Homo sapiens: one gene and its partners. The protein of the gene in region 2 interacts with the protein of the main gene of each other region in a pairwise test. Each region holds a gene or a part of one and is shown on either strand. Other genes may lie near its edges. The genes, in order: MSS51, SNX18, HSF2BP and GOLGA2.

Region 1 (7,715 bases), on a different chromosome or scaffold from region 2:
TCAATAGTCATTAGGAAAATGCAAATCAGAACCACAGTGAGATATTACTTCATACCCACTAGTATGGCTATTATAAAAAAAAAAAACAGAAAATGACAAGTGTTGATGAGGATATGGAGTAATTTGAACCCTCGTACACTGCAGGTGAGAATGTAAAATGGTGCCACCACCATAGAAAACAGTACGGCAGTTCCCCAAAAAGTTAACATAATATTACTATATAACCAGAAATTTCATTCTTAGGTATGTGCCCAAAATATTTAAAAACAGATACTCAAACAAATACTTATATGTGAATGTTCATAGCAGCACTATTCGCAACAGCTAAAAGGTAGAAACAACCCAAAGGTCCATCAATGGATAAATGGATAAACAAATTGGGATATAAATATACATATGAAGATGTATATTATTCAGCTATAAAAAGAAATGAAATACTGATACACGCTACAATGTAGAGGAACTTCAAAAAACATTATACTAAGTGAAGAAAGCCAGACACAAAATGTTGTATACATGTTGTATGATGCCATTTCTATGAAATATCCAGAATAGGTAAACCCAGAGACAGAAAGCAGATTGGTAGTTGCTAAGGGCTGGGTGGAAGGGAAAATGGGGAGTAACTGCTTAATGGTTATGGGGTCTTCTTTTGGGGTGATAAAAATGTTTTGGAACAAGACAAAATTGATGGTTGAACAATACCGTGAATACACTAAATGCCATTTAATTGCTCACTTTAAAATTATTAATTTTATGTTATATGATTTTCACTTCGATTAAAAAAGAAAGGAAGGAAGGTATTCATAGAGATTGAGAGGCTAAAAAGTTATTAATCCCCAGATTGTCTTCAGGTACAGAGAAATAACAGAGGATTAAAAACGCTGGCAGTGTGAATGAGGAAACTGTTAAAGTTCAAACCAGGGATCATGTTTTGTTACAAAAATGATCTGACATTTGATCCTTCTAGATCAGATCTGTTAGGAAAAACCTCAGAATCATCATGCAGCTGAGGTGTATGCAGGTGGCAAAAATAAACAAAAAGCTCCCAGAATTATCCAGCTCATATCCATATCTTACAACATGACTCTTAAAAACCTGTCCTCAGGTTAATGGAGGAACAAATTTGTATTTTCCTTTGTACTTTCTATCTCCTCATCCTTATGTTTCCATCCACCCTCTTAATGTCTCCCCTTATCCCATGGGTGAATGGATGGTTTCAGTCCACAGAACAGAAATAGTCAAGCTCATCTGTATACCATATCCTATATATTACCTTCAATGAAGAAATTGGACCTAATGATATTAGATTATCTTAGGGTTTAAGGGTCATGTCCTTTTACCAAAAGAGTAAATGGAATTGCCCTTCACACTTTAGGGCCCAATTTCCAACAACTAACCTCATTCTGTCCTCCACTTTTAATCACCTCACATTCTCATTGCATTTTCAGAATCACTGCCATTCTACAAAAAGCATTTATCTACTCTACCCACCTGCCTCAGGCAAGATAACATTTTCTTTTTCTTTCTTTCTTTGAGACAGAGTCTCACTCTGTCACCCAGGCTGGAGTGCAGTGGTGCGATCTTGGCTCACTGCAACCTCCACCTCCCGGGTTCAAGTGATTCTCCTGCCTCAGCCTCCTGAGTAGCTGGGATTACAGGCTCGCGCCACCATGCCCAGCTAATTTTTGTATTTTTAGTAGAGATGGGGTTTCACCATGTTGGTCAGGCTGGTCTCGAACTCCTGACCTCGTGATCCACCCACCTCGACCTCCCAAAGTGCTGGGATTACAGGCATGAGCCACGGCGCCCGGCCAAGACACCACTTTCTTAAACCTTGAAAGAATGACTTTTTTTTTTTTAAATAGGTATGGAAGGAAAGTGTGATTTGAGACAACTCTAGGGTCTTAAATCCCAGAATTTATAATAGATATCTCCCTGAAGTTAAAACATAAGCCTTTTTGCTGCAATGGAAGCAAGCCACTTAAGGTCAGAAAGGTACTGCTTTACTTTTCCGCATTTCCAAGGTGAGGTCTTCCTCTAAAGGAAGATTAGCTCTTGGCAATCTGGGAGTTGGCTGAACTGGTCAGAAAGCAAAAGGATCACACAGTTTGAGGAAGAGGAGTGGTGGTAAAAATCCCTAATGTCACAGTCTCCTCTGTGTCTAGAGCACAATGTTCATGATACAAATGAGTTAGCTTTCTGGCAGAAAAGAAAGAAGGTGGGTGAGAAGCCAGGTCTTTGATCTGCATCTATATACATCATCAGGTTCATGTTTGAGTTTATATACCCCAGGCCCAGACACAGCTTCCCTGGTTCTAAATCTCCTGTAAAGAGCCCCAGGCTACTCCCTGTTCACAGGTTATAAACTGAGAGAAACAAAGGAAAAAACAGGGGACTCACAGGAGAAGCTGGAAAGAATTGCAGTAAGCTCTTTGAACTTTCCAGAGTCTAGAATGCTCTCCACTTAGAAAGGGAATCCCTTTCATTTTTTTCTAGCCATCCCCAGTGACTTAGGCTCTAATTTAGTCCCAGTATAAGAGAGAGAACACCAACACCAAGAACTGGAGAGGAGACATGATCTTGATTGCCTAGAAAAACTTTTATCCTTCATGTCCAAATTCAAGACAAAATATTAATCTATTCCTAGACCTAGGTTTCCCATCTTCTTCTTTACCACCAAGAGTCCCAAGTTTCACCTAAACTACAGTCATATTTTCACTATCTCCAGATAAGGAGTGCTCATCTAATTTTCTGTAAGTCACCAAAAAATGCAAAACGTCTTTGGAGAGGTAGGGAGAAGGAAGACTGAAACTGGTCATTGGAGATCCTTATAAGGGGGTAGGAAAAGAGAAGGAGAAATACATTAAGGACACTGTAATTATGGCCACATTCAGCTGTTTAATCAGTGATTAACACTGCCTGGGGTGATAAATACTTTACTCAATTATAAACTAAGCAAGCAGACAGGTTGACGGAAAAAAAAACTTACCCTGCTAAGTCCTCAGCTTCCTTCCTTCTCTCTTTCCTCCAAGTGAAATGAGTGCTTGATCTCTTCAGATCTAGGTTGTGGCTTACTTGCAGCTGTCCCTTCATATCACTTTCCTTTGCAAACTGCTGAAATGCTGAGTCTCAGTGATTAAGTGTGCCCTGCCAACCAGACAGACAAGGCTGAATTCTCCCTAATGAGGCAAAGAGGGATCTGTCCCCCTGCCTGAGGGCTTCTCTCTAACCTTTGTTCTCTGCCAAGGGGGCTCAGGACTGTCAACACTCCCAAGTGTTAGCCAAGTAAAGGCCAGGCAGGCTGACAAAAAATGAAACCTGCTGCTTCCTAGACTTCTCTCACTCAAGGCAATATTTCTGTTCTCAGTTTACAGCTTCAGAAGAAAACCCTTTGGATTAGTGCAGAAGTCAATATTTGATTGGAAAGGGTAAGCACCTTTCCAACCAAGTGGGAGGAACCAGAGGACCCTCTGGAGTTCTGTTTGTTGATCTAGACACAGGATGAGTTCCCCCAGGCCTGGTGTCCTTTTTCAGCATAACAAACATTGTTCAAACAAAACTCAACAATGTCCAATCTTGGATTAAGTAGAAGGGAGAAAATAAATGGCCATTTAATGGTACAGAATGAAATCAGTTGTAGGGGAAACATGCAGAATTAACTTGTAAAATTCACTTTCCCTGAAAGAAGGGTAAGATAACTCTCTGAGTGAGAGAGTCATCAGGAGCACTTTACCTGTATTAAGAGAGGAATAAATGCTTCTGGGATATTAAACAAAACCAAAATACTAGTTAATGACTAAAAATACATACTATTTCTAGGAAAAGAAAATAGAAAAGAATCAGCTCAACCATTCTCTTATCCTCCTTGTAATTGCAGCTGATCCAGGAAATTCAATTCCACAGTCCTAGCTTCTTTCTACTTACAGCTAGCCTATCTGAAGTTGTTAGGGCAGTGGTCCTAAAAGACTGCAAGATCTTTCTTACCCTCAAAAAATTTTTTTAAAATTTTTAAATAAAAAAGTTCTGACTTTCTGCTTATATCTGACCCCAGCTCTCACTTACCTGCTTCTTTGAACATCATCAAACTGGGGAACAGAATCACTCGCAATGAGGTCCCGGAATGTGGCAAATCAAATCCACACAGGAACCCCAAACTGTAAAAAGTACAAACTACATGCAGGGAAGGTGGAAGAAAAGTGTTAAGGATTCAACCAAACACTGCATAACATTATGTAGAATAGCTGTGGATAAAGGAAAATCAGTTGCAATAGGCAAAAACCCTAAATAAAATAGGGGTAATTCACTTTGTGCAAAAGTTTCAGGCCAACTTCAAATTTAACAGGCTTCAAAATTTATCTGAGAACCTCAAATGTTTTGAGTTCTGTTAATAATGGCTGAACTGCAGAAGATACAAGACATCAGAGATTGACTTTTCTAATTCAGAAGTTGTCAATGAATATAAAGGAGAATAGTAATATAGAAAAACTTTGATGTTGAATACTTATATTTTACTATCACTATGACTTGCTCTGGTAAACATTTAAAGTTACGAAGTCTGAACTTTTCACAATTTGTATTCATCATGAGTTGCATTTAAAAAATCTTAATAAATGGTATGCTGTGAAATGAATTATGAAGAAAGACTAGAAAGAGGTTCCTATTCAACATGTAGGAAGTGGTCTGTGAGGCACTATGTGATACTTTATCACTCTTCAGGTATTTTGCTTTTCCTGAGTTTGGTTCCTTTCTCTTATTTTCCTCTTAATTTTTACCATCAATCCATAGTTTTTTTGCTAATACTACTTAATGCTCACCCATGATTCCCACAAACACTATATAATGCTAGTTATGTACCTAAGGGCTAGGAAAGTTCCTGGCACCTAATATACTAGTTAAACTCTTACTTACTTTTTAATTTTTCTATTGGGTCTATTTTAGCCAGATAAACTCTTTACTGAATAGCTTTCATAAAACAACATCGACAACAATCTTTAAGGTATGCAACTTTCATAAACAACATAGACAACAATCTTTAAGGTATGCAATGCATAATAACTTTAGAGCCAACTCATGGACTGCTTTGTAAGTTAATATTTTGGCAAGCAGAGAGTTATAATAATTAACAATTTGTGGCCGGGTGCAGTGGCTGACGCCTGAAATCCCAGCACTTTGGGAGGCTGAGGTGGGCGGATCACGAGGTCAGGAGTTTGAGACCAGCCTGGCCAACATGGTGAAACCCCATCTCTACTAAAAATACAAAAATTAGCCAGGCGTGGTGGTGGGCACCTGTAGTCCCAGGTACTTGGGAGGCCGAGGCAGGAGAATTGCTTGAACCCAGGAGGCGGAGGTTGCAGTGAGCCAAGAGCATGCCACTGCATTCCAGCCTGGGTGACAGACAGAGATTCCGTCTCAAAAAAAAAAAAAAAAAAGCAAAAGAAAAAGAAAAAAGAAACAATTTGAGAAGTTCTGTTTGTTACCTGGAATTAGGCAAGCATGTGTGTGTGTGTGTGTGTGTGTGTGTGTGTGTGTGTGTGTGTGTGCGCTTGCCTAATATATTTACATATATTTTGTTTGTTTTTAAGGGATGGGGTCTCACTCTGTCACCCAGGCTGGAGTACAGTGGTACAATCATAGCTCAACACAGCCTGCAACCATGAGCTCCTAGGCTCAAGCAATCCTCTGTCTCAGCCTCCCAAAGTGTTTGGATTACAGGCATGAGCCACTGTGCCCTGCCTATATTTTGACTTAGTGTTTTATAATATATCTCATTGTAATTATTGTTGAGAACTATAATTCAAGTTATTGTATGATTATATAATTTTGAGCAATATCCTAATATCCCTCAATGTGCAAAATCCTATACTTATTGTGATTATGACAAAGAAGAAAGGAATGATAGGAAAATGCAATTATCACTAATATTTTTCTTATTGTTAGAACACCCAGTAAATTCCCAATACCACTATAACAAAATTCTAGACAATAACATATTTTCTTTCAATTAAAAGACAATAAACAGTGATCTTAAATATTAGACTTAGGAGGCCTACAGTAGGCATTCAAAGTCCTCTAGTGCTCAGTTACTAATGCTCATGTAAAACAAGTATATAACAAAAGTTTTTTTTAAGGCAAAATTTATAAAGAATTTAATTAATCAAATTACCATGAACTATCCACGAGATAATCTCCGGAGGACATCCCAGCTCTAGTAACAGGATTTTCTGATTTGCATCAAAAGGACAAATCAGATTGCATCTTCCAAATAAAACCCAACACAGAGATAGGAGCAGCGGCCCATGCATGGAATTTATTGTGTGCTACTGTTTATAAAATACTCGAATAGTCCTGCACATGCATAATATTTCCAACTTAGACAGGAGACCATACAGGGTGCACTTTCTGGCAAACAAAACAATAGATGGTTCCGCTGCCTGGAGCTCTGAGTTGTATTCCAGGGCATGAGGGAAGCAGGCCACCAAAGTAAAGGGAAATACCAAACTACAGTGGCAATCAATACAGGTCAATAATTGTGAAAAATTAGCACATGGTTCCATTTAGTTTAACCAAGCAGTTCAGTAACTATCAAAAGAAAGGTTTCAACATGCAGTCTTGACTTTTATGCTTCCACTAACATCTGAATGATTGAACAGAACCATTGCTTCTAGGCTGCATTGCTTAATCAAAAACACTTCCAGAACATTTTAAAATTTCCTTTGCATTAAAACATAAAAATGATAGAAAGCCAGCAGCAAATCACCCTGGTGGCTCTCTAAGCAACTTGAGTACTCACAATAAACTAAAATTTCTCATAACATCTAGGTAACCTATACATGTCGTACCTGTACATCATAGGTCTATATATTAAATATTTGCAAAATGAAAACATGCATACACAAAATACGTCAAGTTTTACAGACATGATTTGAATTAAAATTTACTTTGACAATGTACAAACTTCTTTTAAAGTACCTTAAATGAGTAATTCTGTAATTCTTCATAATTTTGAAATTTAGAGGTTTTCTTCTTAAATCTCTGGGGTGTAAGTCTTAAAAGATCTGGGCAAAAAAGACTCTAAATTAGTTTTTGGATTTGTGTTCAAGTAAGAGAGCCTGCCTGGAAATAGGATATGCATTCATAATTAAAAAATACCAAGACTATGTTACAGAATTAGCCACATTTAAGAACTATAGACCTGAGGTCAACATTTTGTATAAATGCCAACTGGGTTTCTCGGCATTTTGCTCACAATTCAAAATACAGCTAGTAACCTCAGAAATGTATTTTAAGACCATGCTAATTCATCCTTTAAAGACATTTCATGGAAAAAGAAAAGTCCACATTAGCTCTTAGGATTGCATTTGAAATCATGATTGAAAAACAAAATCTAATTCTACTGAAGGGGAAAAGAAATCTGATTTGTAAACTTAAATGTGTGAACCACAAGCATAAAATGGAGGTGTGGATGCCCTCCACTGGAAATTGCCCCAAGCCCCTTGCTCACTGCTCTCCACCTTGGCAGCGATGACCCAATCTTATCAGATAGCACATGTCCCAGGGCCCTCAAGCCTCCATCCAGGAAGGGGGCTAGGGTCTCAGAAGCACAATGGTTTCTTCAGAGAGACTGTGAAATTTACAGTCAGCTTGGCCGACCCCTCCAGCTCCTCGGGTGATCTGTCCATTTGGGGCCCGAGATGTGAGAGTCCCTGGGAAGTAGT
Region 2 (5,368 bases):
AAGGCAGGCCAGGAGAAAAAACATATATGTAAAACAAATCTGTAAAGATAAGCAGATACAAGACTACAAAGCCCCACAAAGAGGGCAAGCTTTGCCAAATGGGACTTTGGCCCCTTGCAAGATATGCCAGGTCCCGTAGCTATTATATTTTGGCTTATGTGTGTTGGAGTTCGCCTATTTATGGCAACCAACAGACAGTATGTCAAGTACTTTACTTAAGCACCTGCTTCTGTCTCAGGTATTGGACTCATGGGAGCTATTATTTCAAAACCTCTCACTCACAACTTACTGCTATGTGCTTAATTCCTGATGTCACTAATGGAAGCAGATACTCCATGGGACTATCTGAATGATGATGGTTTTAAATTAATCAAATTAGCTACAGTGTTTGATGAATAATTTCTATGGTAACTGCAGATGAAGCTCAAGACAGAACATGCTCTTCTATTTTTCTGTGTAATTCTTCACATTAAATAAATGCCTCCTTGATGAGTGGAGAAAAAATAATTATATTCCATTGAAGCTAAGAAATAAAGCAACCTGTTTATTTTTTAAAAAGATAAACATGGCTGATCTGCACTAATCATAACATTTTGAAGGAAATAAAACAATATTCAACATTTCTAGACTACAAATAAATAATACCCTGTTTTACTTATTCTGTTAACCAAAGATGAAGGTGGAAATGAGAAAATTGAATGCTTATGGACTTAAAGGTATCAGACATGGCATTTGATTTTTGGAAAATGAAGACATAAATGGAAAATGGCTATGGCAATGAACTTAAGAATGACATTTAAAAGTTTTTACACAAACTTTACATACTTGACAGACTAAAACATTTTTCAAGTCCTTAATTATGAGAACAGCAGCAAAATTTAAGACAATTAAAAATCGGCATTTAAGAATCTGCTGTATTATTGTGAATAAATGCAAAACAACTGTATCAGTGAAGCCTGGGAAAATCTCAATTACTATAATATTCGTGCACTGGCTTTACATTTCACTTTTGAATGCGTTCCCTCATCCTGGGTGCAAACTGGGTACCTTCAGATACAACAGCTTGGACGGGGAACAAGATTACGACACATGGCTGTAGAACCAGTCTCGCTGCGTTACAGTTACAGCATATAAACAACTCTGTCTAATAAAAACAGTAAAACCAGGCTCAAGTGCACACCCTGTGTTACAAACACATCACATATCAGGATTATAAATCATAGAAATAAAGACAAATAATGGCATGAAGGGCATGATAGTTTATTTTTAAAAATTGTACCACACTGATCATGATGACCAGCATACACATGATAATGGCTTTTCTCTTGGGTTTAACATTGCAGTAGTTTTGCATACTGCAATGTTTCAATAGGACCAAGAACGTTAGAGAATAAAGATCTTAGATGAAAATGAACACTAATAATTCTAGTGTCCTCCCCCATAGAATTAATGTAAATCCCGTATGAATCAGTGGCATTATAATGTTATGTGGTTATGAAGAATGAAATTTCTCTTAGAAGTAGGCAGCATGAATTTATACTTACATAAGTATAACTTATACTTCCTTGTACTTTCATCTTTAGTTTTTATAATTTAAGCTATGTCCACCCTGGCTAAAGTACAATCATACAATATACCTCAGATAATTTCCATGCTACCATTGCACAAGTTTAGTGATTTTACTATTAAAAAAAAAAAAATCCAACCACCATCAAAATAAAGAGGCAAATAAAAGTAATTTTTAAATCATTTGAAAAGCATGGTGCTTATTTGTCCAATACAGACTCAAACTTAAATGCTATAGTTATAATTTCCAGACTTCCGCAAAATTAACATTTATATATACATATGGGTTTTGTTTATAGAACTGTATTTTGCAATCAACAAGTTTTAGAGACAACATATTTGGTTACAGTTCCACATATCTGTAGTAAAGACAAAGCCACATAATGTTCATGATGTTAAATCTGGCTCTAAGTAACCTAAGGTACAAAATTTTGACCAAATATCAAAATGATAATCTGATCTTAAAAATACAACCCATATGAAACTACTTTTTAGAGAGAAAATGTGCTGTTCAGTAATTATTTCAATAACCTTTTCTGAGTATCTGCAAACTGATCCTTTTCTTTAATCTTTGTGACTCACCAATATTTCAAAGTGACCTCTTCACTTCCATGTTACCATTTCAGTACCCAGGGATTTCTGAGGCAGCATAAGTTTGACTTCATAAAAACAGTAGATACTCTAACAGTGACAATTTTTAAATCTGTAAACTCAATAATCACATTAGTTAGCTCAGCAACTATAAAAACATTGAGATTGGGGCACTGTAAGCCAGAATCTCTTTGTGCTTTTTAAATTAAGCTGCTTTTGAATCTTTTTGGTATTTATCAGCCATCTGTATTTCCCTTATAATAATAAAAGAATACATTTAAAATAAATTTTAAGGTTAAATGTCCTGGGGGGGGGGGGCTCATCAATACCTTTTTTTTTTTTAAAACATAGTATAAATCAATTATCTTTTTCCTTCAGTATTTGGAATAGCAAAAATTATTTCTGGTCCCTCCTTAGATCAATCCACACCACTTTTCATGACATATTAACACTGAAATTTACAGACATCCCTGAAAAGTTTTTAAGTAAACAAGTGAATCACAGTGGAGTCTCAATCAGTTAACAGTGTAGATCCATTTTTTTTCAAAAAACTGAATATTAAAAGAAAATCTTCAACCTAAAAACAAAAACAAAAACAAAACCCTCCTAAGAACTAAAGCCAAGTGTGTGTTGTCAATGATTCGATACTTTTATCCCCTGACTGATTTAGACTCCTCCTCCTCATGTTGTAAGACATGTTTGCTGAAATCTTCACGCCAAGCTTTTGGGACGCCTGGGTGAAGAGGCTATGCTACTGTTGCATCTAAGGGAATAGTGGCACTGTTTCTTCCCTAACAGACTTCATATCCAAAGATGAGCAATGAATCTCACTCCCCTGCATTCACCAGCATCTTATCAGGAGATAATACTTGCTGTGCAAATTGATGACAGCTGATCGTCCCACCCCACCGCCCCCCCCACCCCCTACTGCCAATATAAGGTTATCATCAGTTTGTCATTATATGCACTGGCCTTTCACTCTTTCAATCAGAAAAGCTGTGGCTTACTTTAAAAAGGTGGGGAAGGGACGGGGAGAAATGAAAAACCAAGAGTCTAAAGGCACAAGGTCGCATAGCTGCTCTAGTTGGAGTTTGTAAACAGAGAATAGGTTGAATTTAGGTAATCCCAATCTATGAGAGTAAAAAGGCATCCACAGCAGGCTTGTATCCAGCCAGCTTCTTTGAGACCCTTCATGGGTTTTGAGGTCTACAAAGTATGCACTAAAATACCCATACTTCAAAAAGCAATAAGGCAAATAGTATAATCATTATTCCAAAAGTTACAATGGTAGTGTAGGCATACATAGTATAATTTAGTTACAATGTGTGGTACTGTTTCTATTATATAACCATATTAACTGTTTATTTCCTACATAATTATAAATTCAGCTGGGTTTCAGATGAACACAAAACCGTCCTTGTACCACCACTGATAGCTGGCAATAGCTCTTTGACAGCAGTTTTTATTCTGCTGTAGAAATTATCCTTGAACTGAAAAAGTCCATAATCCAACGTCCAGTCATTAAACACTATCATATTTGTGAAGAGCTTCTTCCAACTTCTGGGTAACTTTTTGGAAAAATATTATTTGTTGTTGTAAGAAATGCTGCATCTGTGATTTAAAGTCTCTCACTCGAATTTGATGGAAGTGGTGAATTTCAGCCAAAGTGGCAAAAGAAATAGTGTTACAGCGATCCTGAATGCCGTCAGCCTTCTGCACCTCCATCTTCCCTTCCTCCACGTGTCGCCTACTCTCCTTGACTTTGGTAAGAGCTCCTGTAGTTAAAAATAACAATTAATTAAAAACCTATATATCCACATATCCCAAGAACATAACTACATATTAAACAGAATCTTGGGCATTATAAATAGTTGCCCAAACTATTTTCAATACCTTTGAAATTTAAAGTGAGGACCATAATTACTCATTTTAAAAAAAGAAGGAATCTGGTAAAGTTTCTGAAAACACTCCCTTTGTTAAAATTTCTCTTCAAAAACTAGTGTTTGTTACATTGACCAAGAATCTGTAGTATCCCATCTCTTCCAAGTAGAGATGCTATACATAACTGATAATAAACTGCAAGGAAATGTCCTTAAAAAGACACAACAAGAAACTGCAGTTTTCACAGGCTCAAAAGGTGTGACATCATTATTTCCACATATATTAAGAGAATTATACTGTTTATAAAAACATCCCATAAAGGATCCAAACCCACTTCCTCAGAAAGTCTCACTAAATAATTCAGACTCTAGAACCAGTCTCTGAAACAAGTTAGTACCAACACAGGTTGTGTTTTGGAATCATGTCACAGTCATGGAGGGTGCTTGGCAATGTTGCCAGTCTACAATTGGAGGTCACCCTCATGAGGGCTGGCCTAGCCCATTATCTTGTCATCCAGAGTAAACACCTAGCTGAAGTGCTCAGCACACAGAAAGTGCCTGGTGAAGGGGTGAATTGCGAACACATGTCTGATTCTGACTTCACGTTGCATCGGGAGACCCACACCTGGAGTACAAGGGCTTTAATAAGAATTTGCCCCTTTTTTGGGACTATAAGGATCGGTGAGTGTTAACTCTGCCCTAATGATGACTTAGGAATGATGCCAGCGGTTCCATAATCTCATGCCTAGAAGTATCAACAGAGGGTGTTGCAGGGGTGGGGGTGAAGGATTGACCACTCCGGCAGGTGCCATACGAACGCAGGCCCTCCCCCGAAAGCACAGTCATACAAAGACACAAAAGTTTGAGGATGTTTAGGGGTAGGAAATAGGCTATTCCTGAGTTCTTAGGAATGAGTAGTAATAAAGCTCAAATCACTTGAACAAAGCCAGCTTAAGAATTCAGATTTCCCGACTGTGCCTAGCACTCATTCCACTAAACCATACTGAAAGGCAAGACAGAACACAGAGACAAACAGCTAGAGTGCCTGGCTTGGCAGTCTGAGAACACAGTACTACTGAGGAGGGAACCAGGAACCTTGAGTAGGAGGAGGTACAGAAACTGAGAGACTTTGTTTCGGAAATGTTGTTTTGCCCAATAGTGAAATATACAAGGGAAGATGCCCTATTTCTAAATTTCTTCAAATCTCCTAAAGAATAATATAATATTAAACAAAACCCTTAAACGTAAAGCAGTATGCTTTTTTGGCATAGTTCAAAGACCTGAGAAATGAAAAAGCACCAACAGCAAATTTCATCCATATATATGTACGT
Region 3 (7,040 bases), on a different chromosome or scaffold from region 2:
GGGTAAGGAAGCTGCAGAAGAAAAGCTGGAAGCTAGTACAGGTTGCTTCATGAGGTTTAAGGAAAGAAGTTGTCTCCATAACATAAAAACAACGTGCAGCAGCAAGTGCTGATGGAGAAGCTGCAGCAAGTTATCCAGAAGATCTAGCTAAGATCACTGCCGAGGGTGGTTACACTAAACAAGAGATTTTCAATGTAGACAAAGTCGCTTTCTATTGGAAGAAGACGCCATCTAGGACTTTCACCGCTAGAGAAAAGTCAATGCCTGGCTTCAAAGCATCAAAAGACAGGCTGACTCTCTTGTTAGGGGCCAATGGTGCGGGTGACTTTAATTGAAGCCAATGCTCATTTAACCATTCTGAAAATCCTAGAGCCCTTAAGAATTATGCTAAATCTACTCTTGCCTATGCTCTAGAAATAGAAAAACAAAGCCTGGATGACAGCACACCTGTTTCCAGCATGGTTTACTGAATATTTTCAGCCCACTGTTGAGACCTACTGCTCAGAAAAAAAGATTTCTTTCAAAACACTACTGTTCATTGACAATGCACCTGGTCAATCAAGAGCCATGATGGAGAGGTACAAGGAAAGTAATGTTGACTCCATGCCTGCTAATACAATACCTATTCTTCAGCTCATATATCAAAAAGAAATTTCAACTTTCAAGTCCTATTTTTTTTAAGAACTACATTTCATAACGCTACAGCTGCCATAGACAGTGATTCCTCTGATGGATCTGGGTGAAGTAAACTGAAAACCTTCTAAAAAGGATTCACCATTCTAGATGCCATTAAGAATATTCATGATTCAGCCAAGCGCAGTGGCTCATGCCTATAATCCCAGCACTTTGGGAGGCTGAGGTGGGCAGATCACCTGAGGTCAGGAGTTCAAGACCAGCCTGGCCAACATGGAGAAACCCCATCTCTACTAAAAATACAAAATTAGCTGGGCATGGTGGCGCATGCCTGTAATCCCAGCTACTTGGGAGGCTGAGGCAGGAGAATCACTTAAATACAGGATGTGGAGGCTGCAGTGAGCCGAGATCACGCCGTTGCACTCCAGCCTGGGCAACAAGAGAATATTCATGATTCATGGGAGGAGGTCAAAATAACAACATTAACAGGAGTTCGGAAGAAGTTGATTTCAATCCTCATGGATGACTTTGAAGGGTTCATGACTTCAGTGGAGTAAGTAACTACAGACGTGGTGGCAGAAAAAAAGGATAAGTTGCTTCTTATGGAAGAACAAAGAAAGTGGTTTCTTGAGATGGAATCTACTCTTGGTGAAGATGCTAAGACATTGTTGAAATAAGAACAAGAGATTCAGAATATTACATAAACTTAGTTGACAAAGCAGCAGTAAGGTTTGAGAGGGCTGACTCCAATTTTGAAAGATGTTCTACTGTGGAAAAAATGCTATCAAACAGCATCACATGCTACTGAGAAATCTTACATGAAAGGAAGAATTAATCAATGTGGCAAACTTCATTGTTCCTTATTTTAAGAAATTGGCACAGCCACCCCAACCTTCAGTAACTACCACCCTGATCAGTTAGCAGTCATCAATATCACGGCAAGACCCTCTACCAGCAAAAAATTGTAACTTGCTGAAGGCTCAGATGATCATTAGCATTTTTAGCAATAATGAATTTTCTAATTAAAGTTTGTACATTTTTTAGACATAATGCTATTGTACATACAACAGACTACAGTATAGTGTAAACATAATTTGTATATGCACTGGGAAACCAAAAACATTCATGTGACTCATGTATTATTGCAGTATTTGCTTTACTGCAGTGGTCTGGAAGCAAACAGGCAACATCTCTCAGGTGCGCCTGCACTTACTCGTGACAATTCCAGCCAGAGCGAAAACAAACTGACTTTCATCCGAATCCAGCTCCTGGACATCACCGTCTAACGACTTCACAAAACTCTCCATTGTTTGACCAGTGATGCTGAAAAACTTCAAAGCTTTATCCTGAAAGTTTGAAAATCAGAGTGTCATATCTTTTTACAGACACTAGTGTGAAAACATTTTAAAAGTGCAGGATACAGAAGATTCTAGTTTTAATTGTAGAATATTGTAAAATCTATTCCCTCATTAAAAGTTCCCATTAAAAGAACAGAGAAAGCAGCTTGAGGCATGCAGGAGCAACAAAAACTACCCTGAAGATTGGTGGACTCTTCACACGCATAAATATGATATAGGACAAATGTACATGATGATGAAAGTAAATGGGAAGAATTCACTCAAAATGTAATAAAAATATACTAGAAAAACATGCTGCCTATTTGCTCTGGGCATTAAACCAGAGGTGTTCAAACCTTTAGCATAACTTTTTTCAAAAAAAAAAATCTTAATGAAAACATGTAAAAGAGGTAAAGACTGGCTCCTCTGGTAGTTTAAATCTTCATCACTTGGCAAAAAGCATTTCCAAGTTTGAACCTTTGAGTTACTTCCTTTGGGGTGCTAGAGTTCTGAAGAAGAATTTTAAAACCAATGTACATTTTAACCCAGTTAAAAAATTGGAAATATTTGCATTTACAAATGATATAAGAAAACTTCATGGATGATCAAATAATCTAAAACTGGGTTGTGGTGATGGTTAATGCAACTCTAAAAATTTGCTAAAAACCACTAAATTGTACATTTACAATCTTACAGTATGTAAATTAAACCTAATAAAGCTCAACAAACTTTTAAAAACACATTTAGTCTTTCCACCTAAAGTCAAACACAACTGTTATTTCTATTAGCAGTAACTAATTTCTCACTGGTTTCCTGCCACACGTCCCCCTCTTCACCTTCATTTCCAGTCATGATCACGCCATGCTCCCAGAGTCAAACACCGATCTTTTTTGGCTCCTCTTGTCCCCTCCAGGTGCCCACTCTGCCCGGCCATCGCATCTGCCTCAACTGCCACAGCTCTCATACATGTTCCTTCTTTCCCATCTCCCCTGCAGAGGGCCGAGCTCACTCCAGCCAGACCAGCTAGAATGACCACCTCATCAGTCATCCTGTGTAGACGCGATGTGCCACAACTCCACCTCCTAATCCATCCTCACCCACTGTCAGGTGAATCTTTCTAAAATTCTGCTCTTATCCTATCACTTTTATTGAAAAACCCTTAGGGAAAATCCAGTCTTCCCACCTACAGAATGAATCACCAACCTGGTATTCAAGGTCCCAAAGTCACATCCCAACCTACGTTTAAGCTTTACCTCCCCACTACTCTATGACATTAACTCTCCACTGTGTCAACTGACCTACTCACTGTCCTAAAACAAACCCACCCATTTTCTGCCATTTCTACCTATTCATCAAGGCCCATTTCAAATTTATCCCCTTCTGTGAAGTTCCCTGACAAATGCCTGCACGCATGCATACATGTGCGTGTGCACGCTCCCACACACACACATGCTCCCACACACCCACACGCTCCCACACACACGATCCCACATACACAGGCTCACAGGCACACACACTCCCCCCCCACACACGCTCCCCACACACACACTCCCACACACACAGGCTCCCACATACACACACATGCTCCCACACACACACACGCTCCCCCCCCACACACGCTCCCACATACACACGCTCCCACACACACACACGCTCTCCCCACACACACGCTCCCCCAAACACACACACGCTCCCACACACACACTCACACAGTCTCACACACACACGCTCCCCCACACACACACATGCTCCCCCACACAAACACACATACGATCCCACATACACAGGCTCACACACACACACACACACTCCCCCACACACACGCTCCCCCCACACACACACACAGGCTCCCACATACACACACACGCTCCCACACACACACTCCCCCACACACACATGCTCCCATACACACACGCTCCCACACACACACGCTCCCCCCCCACACACACACACTCCCCCACACACACATGCTCCCACACACACACACAGTCACACACACATGCACATGCTCAAACACACATGCTCACACACACACGCTGCCACACACACACACAGTTGAACCTTGAAAACAAGGGTTTGAACTGCACAGGTCCACTTACACAAGAATTTTCTTCAGTAAAAGTTACACCAAGTGTGTCTGCTGCTCCAGCCTCCCCTTCCACCTCCTCCACCTCTACCACCCTTTAGACAGCAATGCCAACCCAACCACTCCTCTTCCTCCTCCTCTTCAGCCTACTCAATTTGAAGATGATGAGGGGGAAGACCTTCATGATGATCTAACATACAAAAAATGTGTTAATCAACGATTTATGTTGTCAGTAAGGCTTCCAGCCAACAGTAGAGAGAGTCAAAAGTTCTATGTGGCTTTTCGACTGTGCAGGGGGTCAGCGCCTCCAACCTCCATGTTGCTCAAGGTTCTGCATCTATATGTATGTGTGTGTGTGTGTATGTATAAACACACACACACATCTACATACATGTATATATGTTAGATAACACAATATTCAATAAATACTATATTAACCATGAGATAATATATATAAAAGCACTTTTGATCTTCTTAAACACATGTAAAGTATTAATACTGAAGTGGTAATATGTCCACATATACCACAAGGTCTCCTGGAGAGAAGGGATCTTATTTCATTCCCTTTGCATCAGGTTACAATGAACCATATACGATAAGTATTCAATAACTAGCTGATGAGTGAACAAAAGAAAATGGAAAGATATGGACTTAGTCTTTAAATGCCTTAATAAGCTATATGCTCTAATTTACACAAGCAGTAATCAACAATATCTGGAGAGCCCACTGACCATACTTACTCCTCCCAAAATGGCCTTGACGACTTCCTCACTGCTGGAGACACCCCACAAGAGGGTACACGCTGCTGCTCCCATTTCTGTACAATACTCTGCCTGCTGCAGGAGTTGCTGCTTCGCTTCATTCAACTGCTGTCGAAGAGCCAGTTTCTCCTAAAAGCAAAACAAAATTGAAAAATAAATAATAGCATTCAACCTTGATATATCTTTATTACATTTCCTCTTTCACAAAGATATTTATTAAAGAAATGCATGTATAATTATAGAAAATAGTTGCAAATGAAAGCTAGTCCTAAGAGAACCATAATCTGTATCTACAAAAGAAATTTCAAAGGCAAAAATATTTGAGAAATATCTGAGGAAAGAACATACTACCACATTATGGTTGATAAACCCACAGAGCTGAATTCATCTGCTTTAAGTAACTACATGAAATATCTCAAGCCCCAAGTAACTATACCCAGAACCAGCACCAACCGAGGCTTCTGAACAAAAACAACCTCACAAAGCAATTTACCCAGAAAGCAACATTTCTAAGACAGGAGACTGCCTCCTCCAAATGGCTCACTCCATTGAAAAAACGCCATCTGCCAGAGGCAGACACCAAATAAAAGGCACTTGGACATCAGGATTTGTAAAAAAACAAGTACTTTAGAAAAACTCATCCTGTATAAACGTATCCTTAACTCCTCATGAGAATATTGCCAAAGGTGCCAGTAAATATAAAATACAATCTGTGAAGCTAAACAGGGAAAGAAAACCTAAAACCTAAGACCAGGTAGGAAAGATGGGAGGAGGGGCAAAAAGAAGTGTGAAGGCTGGGAGTCCTATTCATGCCCTGGTGCAGCAAGCCAGTGCCAGTCTAAGAAGAAGATGGAGGCTAGGAAGAGTTTCCTACTCTCCCACCAGCAGTGTCTGAGGTGACCTGTAGCTGGGCAAGTCTCCACCATGGCACTCTTCACAAGGGAAACACAGGGAATGGCCGTCCTGATGGCCCTCCTGACAACACAAGCACACTTCGAGGATTCACCTTGAGTGTACTGCTAGAGTGATGGGGGGCTTCCTGTCCTCTCCAACCACCAGCACCAGGTACCTGAAATTCCCTTAAAAGGTGATAGCATTTCCTGATTTAATAAGACAAAAACTGAAAAATATAAAACCCCAGTTAAATTCATTTATACCAAATGTAATTAGTTACATAAACCACAAAATTAAAGTATATTAAATGCTGTAGATTTTCTTTTAGAGAGATAAATACAAGACAAAGTAGAGGGGGCTTTTCACCCCCTGGAGGAAAAAGGGAGCTTTGGAGCCACAAATCAAAACTGTTGACCTCATAACTTGGATTAGGGTGGCCCACTCATAGTTACCTGGAGACAATGCGTTTGGCACACAGAGATTCATACACATTCATACGTATATGCACACATGTATTTAAGAAAAAAATGGCCACTGAGCCTCTGGCACATGCTAATACTGCATCATGTGATCTGTCAGCTCCGGGTTTTTAATGTCTTCATTATAGCAACAATCTGGACTCCTAGATTCATCCTTTCAGTGTACGTAGCTGAACACAAGTCATGGTGACACATGAAGAAAACTATGTCACAGCACTTCCTTTTGGAATTCTAGCTTTTCTCACAACTTAAGCTGTCTGCATCTCAATTAGTCAGGATATGGTGGTTCTTCTGCACGACCACAAAAAGACTACTGAGAAGAACCAGGAAGGACTTTGCTCACTACAGTCACATTTGGTAGTTGCAGGAGGATATTCCCCAACGCAGGGTTCCACACATAGTATAATAATATCAAAAAAAAAACAAACAAACCTCAAAGAAAATCATAGCATTCCCAGTAACATCAAAAATAAGAATAATTTTTTAAGGTGCAAGACCTATACAATGAAAACTACAAAGCATTACTGAGAGAAAGTAGAGCTAAATAAAGAGATACACCATGTTCAAAAATTGGCAGGATGTCAATTCTTCCCAAACTGATCTACAGATTCAACACAATCCCTATCAAAATCTCAGCAGACTTCTGTACAAAGTGATAATCTGATTCTAAAATTTCTATGGAAATTCAAGACAGAATATCTAAAAAATTGTCTGAAAAAGAAGAACAATGTTAGAAGACTAACAGTGCCTGATTTAGAGGAAAAAACTAACTATAAACCTACCGAAATAGAACCATTGTGGTATTGCTATAAGGATGGACATATAGATCAGTGAAACACTGACATGTCAA
Region 4 (7,000 bases), on a different chromosome or scaffold from region 2:
GCCATGGTATTGATCTCCTCCACTCTTCTTATTTCATTTCCCTGAACCCACATCTTCCTCCTTCCCTGACTTTCTTGCCTCTCTCTAAGCCACTTCTACCTTTCTCCCCCTGCCCTTGTTTTTCCCTTTTCGCCTCCTGTAGATTCAGGACATTCTGAAGGTGCTGGTGTCCGACCTTAACCGTTCCAATGGGGTAGCGCTCCCCCCATTGGACAAGTGGAAGGTGAGGCAGTGCCGAGACCCCTCTCTGGCTTGCTCTCTCCAGCTGTGCATGCCCCTGAGGCTTCTCTGGTTTGGGGGATACTTTGCCTCTGGCTTATTTTATGTTGCTGCCATTAACCTTCCGCCTGTTTATGTCCGCTTCTTCACCTGCTTGATTGATTGGGTTTTTATTCTTCCCCCAAATCTTTTATCATCTTGGAGAAGGTGAGACATATCTTAAAGTTTAAAAGTTTAAAGGTAATTTGGGAATAACTTTTAGAGCAGGTGTGTGGGATTTGGGGCTTTTTTTTTTCTTCTTTTTTTTTCAGAGACGGAGTCTCACTGCCCAGGCTGGAGTGCAGTGGCACAATCTTGGCTCACTGCAACCTCTGCCTCCTGGGTTCAAGTGTTTCTCCTGCCTCAGCCTCCTGAGTAGCTGGGATTACAGGTGCCTGCCACCATGTCTGGCTCATTTTTGTATTTTTAGTAGAGATGGGGTTTCACCATGTTGGCCAGGCTGGTCTTGAACTCCTGACCTCAAGTGGTCCACCCACCTTGGCCTCCCAAAGTGCTGGGATTACAGGCGTGAGCCACTGCTCCCAGTCTGGGATTCTGGGATTTGGGCTTTTGAATGCCCAGTGTGGGTACTCTCAGACTAGGAGAGATGAAAAAAAAAAAACACAAAAAAACCAACAGACCTTTAGGTTTTACCCTAAAGGCAAAGATCAGTAAACCACCTAGAAGTTAGTGTTTTTTTTTTTTTTTTAAATTAATTCACTTTGGTTTAAGAGTAGGGAACAAAGGGTTAAAAGAAAATGAGTTCACATTATAGTTGGAAGGATTGAAGCTATTTTTTCAGAGGAACTAACTGTAAAAGTTGTGAGGTTAACCAAACAGATGAGTGACCAAGACGTTCTGCCCCTAATCTCTCCAAATGGACATTTAGCCATATTCATTGGGCTCTTGACAACAAAGGCACTTTGATAAATAAACAGTGGATAAAATAGATGAACAAGGTAGGCTGCACACCGAGGGAGGCAGACTCCTCTGAAGGAGGCAAGAGAGAATTTTGGAACATTCCAAATGCTCAGCTCGGGGGGAGGTTGGTTCCAAATGGACTCCAGGCTGGAGAAGGTGGCATTTGAAGCTGGCTTGAAGATTAAAGGTGGGTAACATTAATCCATATGGGGAGTGGGGGAGGCAGGGGGAGCGGTGAGGCCGTGGCCAGAGTGTGAACTCACAGAGCACCTTTCAGGAACACAGGGAGCCTGGTGGGGGGCAGGGCATGGAGGTACACAGGGCTGGGAGACAACCTCCTCTGGCTGTGATTTGGCATTTCTTCCATCTCTAACTCACCTGGGGGACTCCTTCCTGCCAAGCCAGAGGAGCAGGGCACGAATAGAGCCTGATCCTGTTGGAGATGGGTATGGGGAGAGGGACTGAGACAGAGCAGCCTTGGCTGCTGTTAGAGAGTTGTCCAGTCTCATACCTGTTACCCTCCAGTTGATCAGGTCTGTCCAGGTGCTGTGACTCACCTTGCCAGCTCAGAGGAGACGCTGAGTGGTACGGCTGGGGAGCACAGGCTTAGAGGTGACCTGCAGCCAAAAGCATTTGGCTTTTGCTCTGCCAATGGTCCAGTGGATTAGGGGGTCTTCAGCCTGTTTCCTAATGCTCTGAGATTCTGTGCCAGCCCAGGTCCCTCTATTCTGGAAACAAAGGCCTAGATCCCCGTATTTCCTTCTTGCTGTTTTGTTTTTGTTTTTGAGAAAGAGTCTTGCTCTTTCTCCTGGAGTGCAGTGGTGTGATCTTGGCTCACTGCAACCTCCCCCTCCCGGGTTCAAGTGATTTTCATGCCTCAGCCTCCCAAGTAGCTGGGATTACAGATGTTGCACCATCACGCCCGGCCATTTTTTTTGTATTTTTAATAGAGATGGGGTCTTGCCATGTTGCTCAGGCTGGTTTCGAACTCCTGGCCTCAAGTGATTCACCTGCCTTGGCCTCCCAAAGTGCTGAGATTACATGTGTGAGCCACCATGCCCAGCCCCTTGCTGTTTTTATACCTTCTCTATATCCGTAACTGTTTCCAATGTAGGTTTTGTTTTTTTTTAATTTCTCATTTTTATTACCATGTAAGTTTTCTACTCCAGGAATGCAGGCCTGTGATCGTAGTATCCTGAGCGGAGCTGATAACATTTCCAGAAGTAGGGAATAATGGAGAGAGAAAAAATATCTTAATGGGATGGGACATTTTGAGGAGAGTAGGCTTTTTTAAAAACTCCATCTTGGCTACAAGACTTAAAATAATGAAATAACTTGGTTGCTCACAAAATAATCATGCTATGTGTGTCAGAAAGTCCTCAGAAAAATGCTTTTTCAGCCAAGTGCAGTAGCTCATGCCTGTAATCCCAGCACTTTGGGAGACTGAGGAGGGTGGATCACCTGAGGTCAGGAGTTCGAGAGCAGCCTGGCCAACATGGTGAAACCCCATCTCTACTAAAAATACAAAAATTAGCTGGGCGTGGTAGCGTGCACCTATAATCCCAGCTGCTTGGGAGGCTGAAGCAGGAGAATCTCGAACTCAGGAGGCGGAGGTTGCAGTGAGTGGAGATCTCGCCACTACACTCCAGCCTGGGCGACAGAGTGAGACTCCCATCTCAAAAAAAAAAAAAAAAAAAAATTCCCTTCCTCTGAGCATTCTTGTGTCTAATCCTAGAGATCAGTGGGAACCGAAGATGCCAGGAGGGCCCTAAAGCCTAGCAGGGTCCATTGCTAGGAGTGCCAGCCTTCCCTCAAGGCTAATGCCTGGCCAGCAACTGAACCCTTGCTCTGACCTATTAGATTCAGTTGTAGGCATTGTCAAGGAAACACCAGGTTCCATGGTCACAGTAAACTTGCAAAGATGCAAAGGCAGCTTGGCTCATCTTCAGTTCCACCAGCCTCTGCAGCACTTGCTCTAAGGAGGGAAGCAGATTTGGGTTTTCAGAAGCCAGGGCTGAAGGGTCCAGTGAGCGCGCAGTCCTTTCCCTGGAGAGAGGTGTAGTCACTTCTCCCAGACCCAGCTTCCGTGGCCAGGCCCTGGCTCCCTGGTGTTTTTCTCTTGTCCAGCTTAGCTGGTCAGCCAGCTTTTTCCACTGTCTGCCCATCTGGCTTGTCAGATATTAGAAGATCTCTAGAACCAGAGGCTTGGGCGAAGAGTAAGGTCAGAGCCTGGAGAGAGGCTGGGTGGGGCTCTGATCAAGCAGGTAGGTCCAGTTGGGGGCAAGGGAGAGGCTCCACATGACCCCAAGTTCTGAATCCTAGGATTGTCCTCAGGTACTATTCCCAGGAAAGAGGCCCTACAACTTCCAAGTTGCCAAGAGCCACAGGGAAGATGTCTTACCTCTGTTTTCTTGGGTGGTTTCTTGGCTGGGTAGATGTTTTTGGAGGTAAGAGGTCGGGGTGGGGGTGTTGGCCATGGTTTATCCTCTTTTTACCTCCAGAGAGTTGGAGAGAGTCTTCTAGTTGGGCAGCTTTTTTTTTTTCCCCCTGAAAAGGCCTGAATCAGAAACACAGCCAGTAGGCCAAGTGCAATGGCTCACACCTGTAATCTCAACATTTTGGGAGACCAAGGTGGATCACTTGAGCCCAGGACTTTGAGACCAGCCTGGGCAAGATGGCAAGACCATGTTTCTATAGAAATTAGCTGAGCATGGTAGTGTGCACCTATAATCTCAGCTACTAGGGAGGCTGAGGTGGGAGCATTGCTTGAGCCCAGGAGGTGGAAGCTGCAGTGAACTATGATTGTGCCACTGCAGGGGAGAAGGGAAGGGAGGAAAGGAGGAGACAGGCAGATAGCTACATTGTGCATTGCCCAGACAACTACTTCCTCATCACCATCCTCTGCCCAGTAGGGGCCCAGTGAGGGTCACTCTGCAGCACAGACTGGCCTTCTGGAAGAACAGTGCCTTTCTCCTCCCTGACTTTGGCACACCTTCCTCCTGCCTGCTGTGGCTGCCACAGGTCAGAGCCTGCTGCTGTCTTTTGCTGAGCTCCAGGGAGAGCGAGGTCCTCGTGTTCATGAAGGAGGCCGTGCAGCCCCTGCTTTGAGCTTTGGCCATCTGAAATGCTGCCTAGCAGCCCAAGGCCTGGGCAACCAATCCACACCCCTGAGTGGCTCCTAGCATGTGTGACTGTCACTCTGACTGCAGCAACACCTGTCCTACCTGTTCCACACCCTTGTGTTCATAGTACTGAGGCACCTCTCCCGCATGGCCCCCTAACCCCCTGCTCTGTTCTGTGACAGACACCCAAGGACAATGCTGCTACTCTACAACCATCTGATGACACCGTGTTACCTGGCGGTGTCCCTTCCCCTGGTGCCAGTCTCACTAGCATGGCGGCATCTCAGGTTCGTGCCTCCTCCCCCTCTGCCCACTGCCCTCCTGTACCTATTATGCATTATCTTCTCCTTTCACAGGCAGCTTGTTCCCTAGGGTCAAGGGCCCTTCCTGGGGACCGGGCCGGGGGAAGGCTCAGACTGGGCTTTTTTCCTTGAGGCCTGGGGAGATTGAAGATTGTTAGAATGAGTTTGGGAGCTTGACTCACCCCATCCTGGGTGATTCTTACCAGAAATTGAATGACCATCTCACACGTTTCTTCCCAAACAGAATCATGATGCTGACAATGTCCCTAATCTCATGGATGAAACCAAGTGAGTGTCTCCTGTTGGGGCAGCAGTCTCTAGGCTGAGAGAGTCAGGGAGGCCACTGCCCATGACCTTCTTTCCCATTGAGCCACCTGCACCCCTGACCCCTGTGTCTCCATCCCTAGGACTTTCTCATCAACCGAGAGCCTGCGACAACTCTCCCAACAGCTCAATGGTCTTGTTTGTGAGGTACCTCAGGAACTGAGGCCGAGAGCGGGGTGGGGGGAAGGGAACTATGATAGAAACTGAAGCAGGGATTCACAAGAGAGAGGGAAGATCCTGGGACCAGCCAATGTGCTGGGCAATGTTAAGGAAGTCGCCTTTTCCCTGAGCCTTCTCCCTTGAAGTTGTGCACATGAAGGAGTTGGACCCCATGACTGGTTGCATCATTGTATCCTGCTGCAGAAGCACTGGATGAGAGCTGCTCGGGAGGAAAGGATGGTGGGGAAATAAGAACCATGAGAGAAGTTGGCACAAAGGGGTTACGGGACAGAGGGTCCAAGTTAGAAAAGAAAATGTTGCCAATTGCTGGGGAAGAAACGAAGTTAGAGGGCTTAGACACTGAGGGGACAGAACATCTCCATGTGCACTCTCGTCTCTTATAGTCTGCGACATGTGTCAATGGGGAGGGCCCTGCATCGTCTGCTAACCTGAAGGATCTGGAGGTAAGAGGCCCTGGGCCGTGGCCCAGTGACCCTGCAGGCCAGCCCTCCAACCTCCTCCCACAGCGGGGGCTGGGTGCCCCTCTGCCAGCTGAGACAGCCCACACACCCCCCAACCCTAATGATTGCTCTCTCTACCTCTCCCCCCAATCCTCCTCCAACTCCTCCTCTCTGCATGCGCCTCAGAGCCGGTACCAACAGCTAGCGGTAGCCCTGGACTCCAGCTATGTAACAAACAAACAACTCAATATCACGATAGAGAAATTGGTAAGAGTCCAGTGGGGTCCCCTGATTCCATGCTGCTAATCCTGGGCTCCAGTTTCCCCTTGGGACCCTGAAGAAAGGGGCAGGGGGCCCCTGGTGCCAAGGGCGAATGGGGAGCTGGGGGGCCCAGGCCTCAGCTGGAGGGACCCCAGAGCACGGAGCATGCAGCATGGCTCTTCTGTTGCTGCCCTCTTTGCCTACTCTCTCTTCTCTAGACACCCCTGCTCGAGTCCTTGCCACACACGCCCTGGGGTTGTTGCCTCTTGGGGAAGCGCTAGCCTGACTGGTTGTCAGGAGCCCTGTATTTCTGCCCTGACTCAGTCCTTAATTTGCTCTTTGATTTGGGACAAGCCACCTCTCCTCCTTGGGCTTGCATTTCCTGAGGAGGTAGAGTTAGAGAGTATCAAAGGTCTCTTAGCTCTGAGAGTCCAAGATTTAAAGGCCCATTAGAATGTAAACCTCAGGGCCAAGGGCTCCTGTCTGTCTTTTTCTGTCTGGTATCCCTGCTATTAAGAACCGTACCTGGCCTGTGTGTGCTCAGCAAATGTTTGTTGAATGATTACACCTTTCTAAATCACAAACTGGCAGAGGGTGGGCTTTTCTCACACTCCATCTCTAGAGGTTTATGTTACTGTCCTTTCAAGAGAATCGAGATTCAGACTTTCAGTTCTGTGGCTGTGGGCAAAAACCAACAAAGACACAAATCCCCTTTCCTTGAGAGCCTGAGGAGAGTTTACCAGTTCGTGTTCCCATTGGGTCTGAGAACTTTGCCTTTAAAATCCATTCCTGGCCCCTGCCTACCCGTTCCTGGTCTGGGGAATAGAGTTGAGGGGGCCACCCTCAGTCACCTTCCTTTGACTCTTCCCCACAGAAACAACAGAACCAAGAAATTACGGATCAGTTGGAAGAAGTAACGTGATTTCTTTGTTTGCTCACAACATGACTGCTGGGTTTGGGGGGCATTCAAATGTAGAGGCCTCAGTCTCGTCTCACCCACTCCCAGCCTGGGGAAGAAGGCTCACCCCCCCAGATTCCACCCCATCCCCACAGGGTCCCTGATAACCTGGTCCCATGGGTGGGCCTGTCCTGGGACATTGGTGGCATTCTGGGGGCATGTCCCTTGCTGTGCCGTCTCTGCCTCCCCCTCGTAAGAGCTCTGTCTTCCTCTTCCTATAGGAAAAGAAAGAAT

Evidence for each region.
Region 1: the proteins of SNX18 (region 2) and MSS51 interact in binary tests that used the Homo sapiens proteins (3 or more experiments, as listed by UniProt).
Region 3: the proteins of SNX18 (region 2) and HSF2BP interact in binary tests that used the Homo sapiens proteins (3 or more experiments, as listed by UniProt).
Region 4: the proteins of SNX18 (region 2) and GOLGA2 interact in binary tests that used the Homo sapiens proteins (3 or more experiments, as listed by UniProt).

Annotation. Positions count from the first base shown.
Region 1 is NC_000010.11:73,430,524-73,438,238, forward strand, and holds the start of MSS51 (putative protein MSS51 homolog, mitochondrial), read right to left. Parts: upstream 3,039-7,715; 5' UTR 2,990-3,038; exon of another isoform or gene 1-2,989.
Region 2 is NC_000005.10:54,541,743-54,547,110, reverse strand, and holds the end of SNX18 (sorting nexin-18), read right to left. Parts: intron 3,933-5,368; coding exon 3,679-3,932; 3' UTR 525-3,678; downstream 1-524.
Region 3 is NC_000021.9:43,628,476-43,635,515, forward strand, and holds part of HSF2BP (heat shock factor 2-binding protein), read right to left. Parts: intron 4,947-7,040; coding exon 4,797-4,946; coding exon of another isoform or gene 4,788-4,796; intron 1,980-4,787; coding exon 1,847-1,979; intron 1-1,846. UniProt on the Homo sapiens protein: Meiotic recombination factor component of recombination bridges involved in meiotic double-strand break repair.
Region 4 is NC_000009.12:128,266,008-128,273,007, reverse strand, and holds part of GOLGA2 (golgin subfamily A member 2), read left to right. Parts: intron 1-142; coding exon 143-223; intron 224-4,483; coding exon 4,484-4,588; intron 4,589-4,847; coding exon 4,848-4,891; intron 4,892-5,010; coding exon 5,011-5,074; intron 5,075-5,490; coding exon 5,491-5,550; intron 5,551-5,733; coding exon 5,734-5,814; intron 5,815-6,682; coding exon 6,683-6,721; intron 6,722-6,987; coding exon 6,988-7,000. UniProt on the Homo sapiens protein: Peripheral membrane component of the cis-Golgi stack that acts as a membrane skeleton that maintains the structure of the Golgi apparatus, and as a vesicle thether that facilitates vesicle fusion to the Golgi membrane.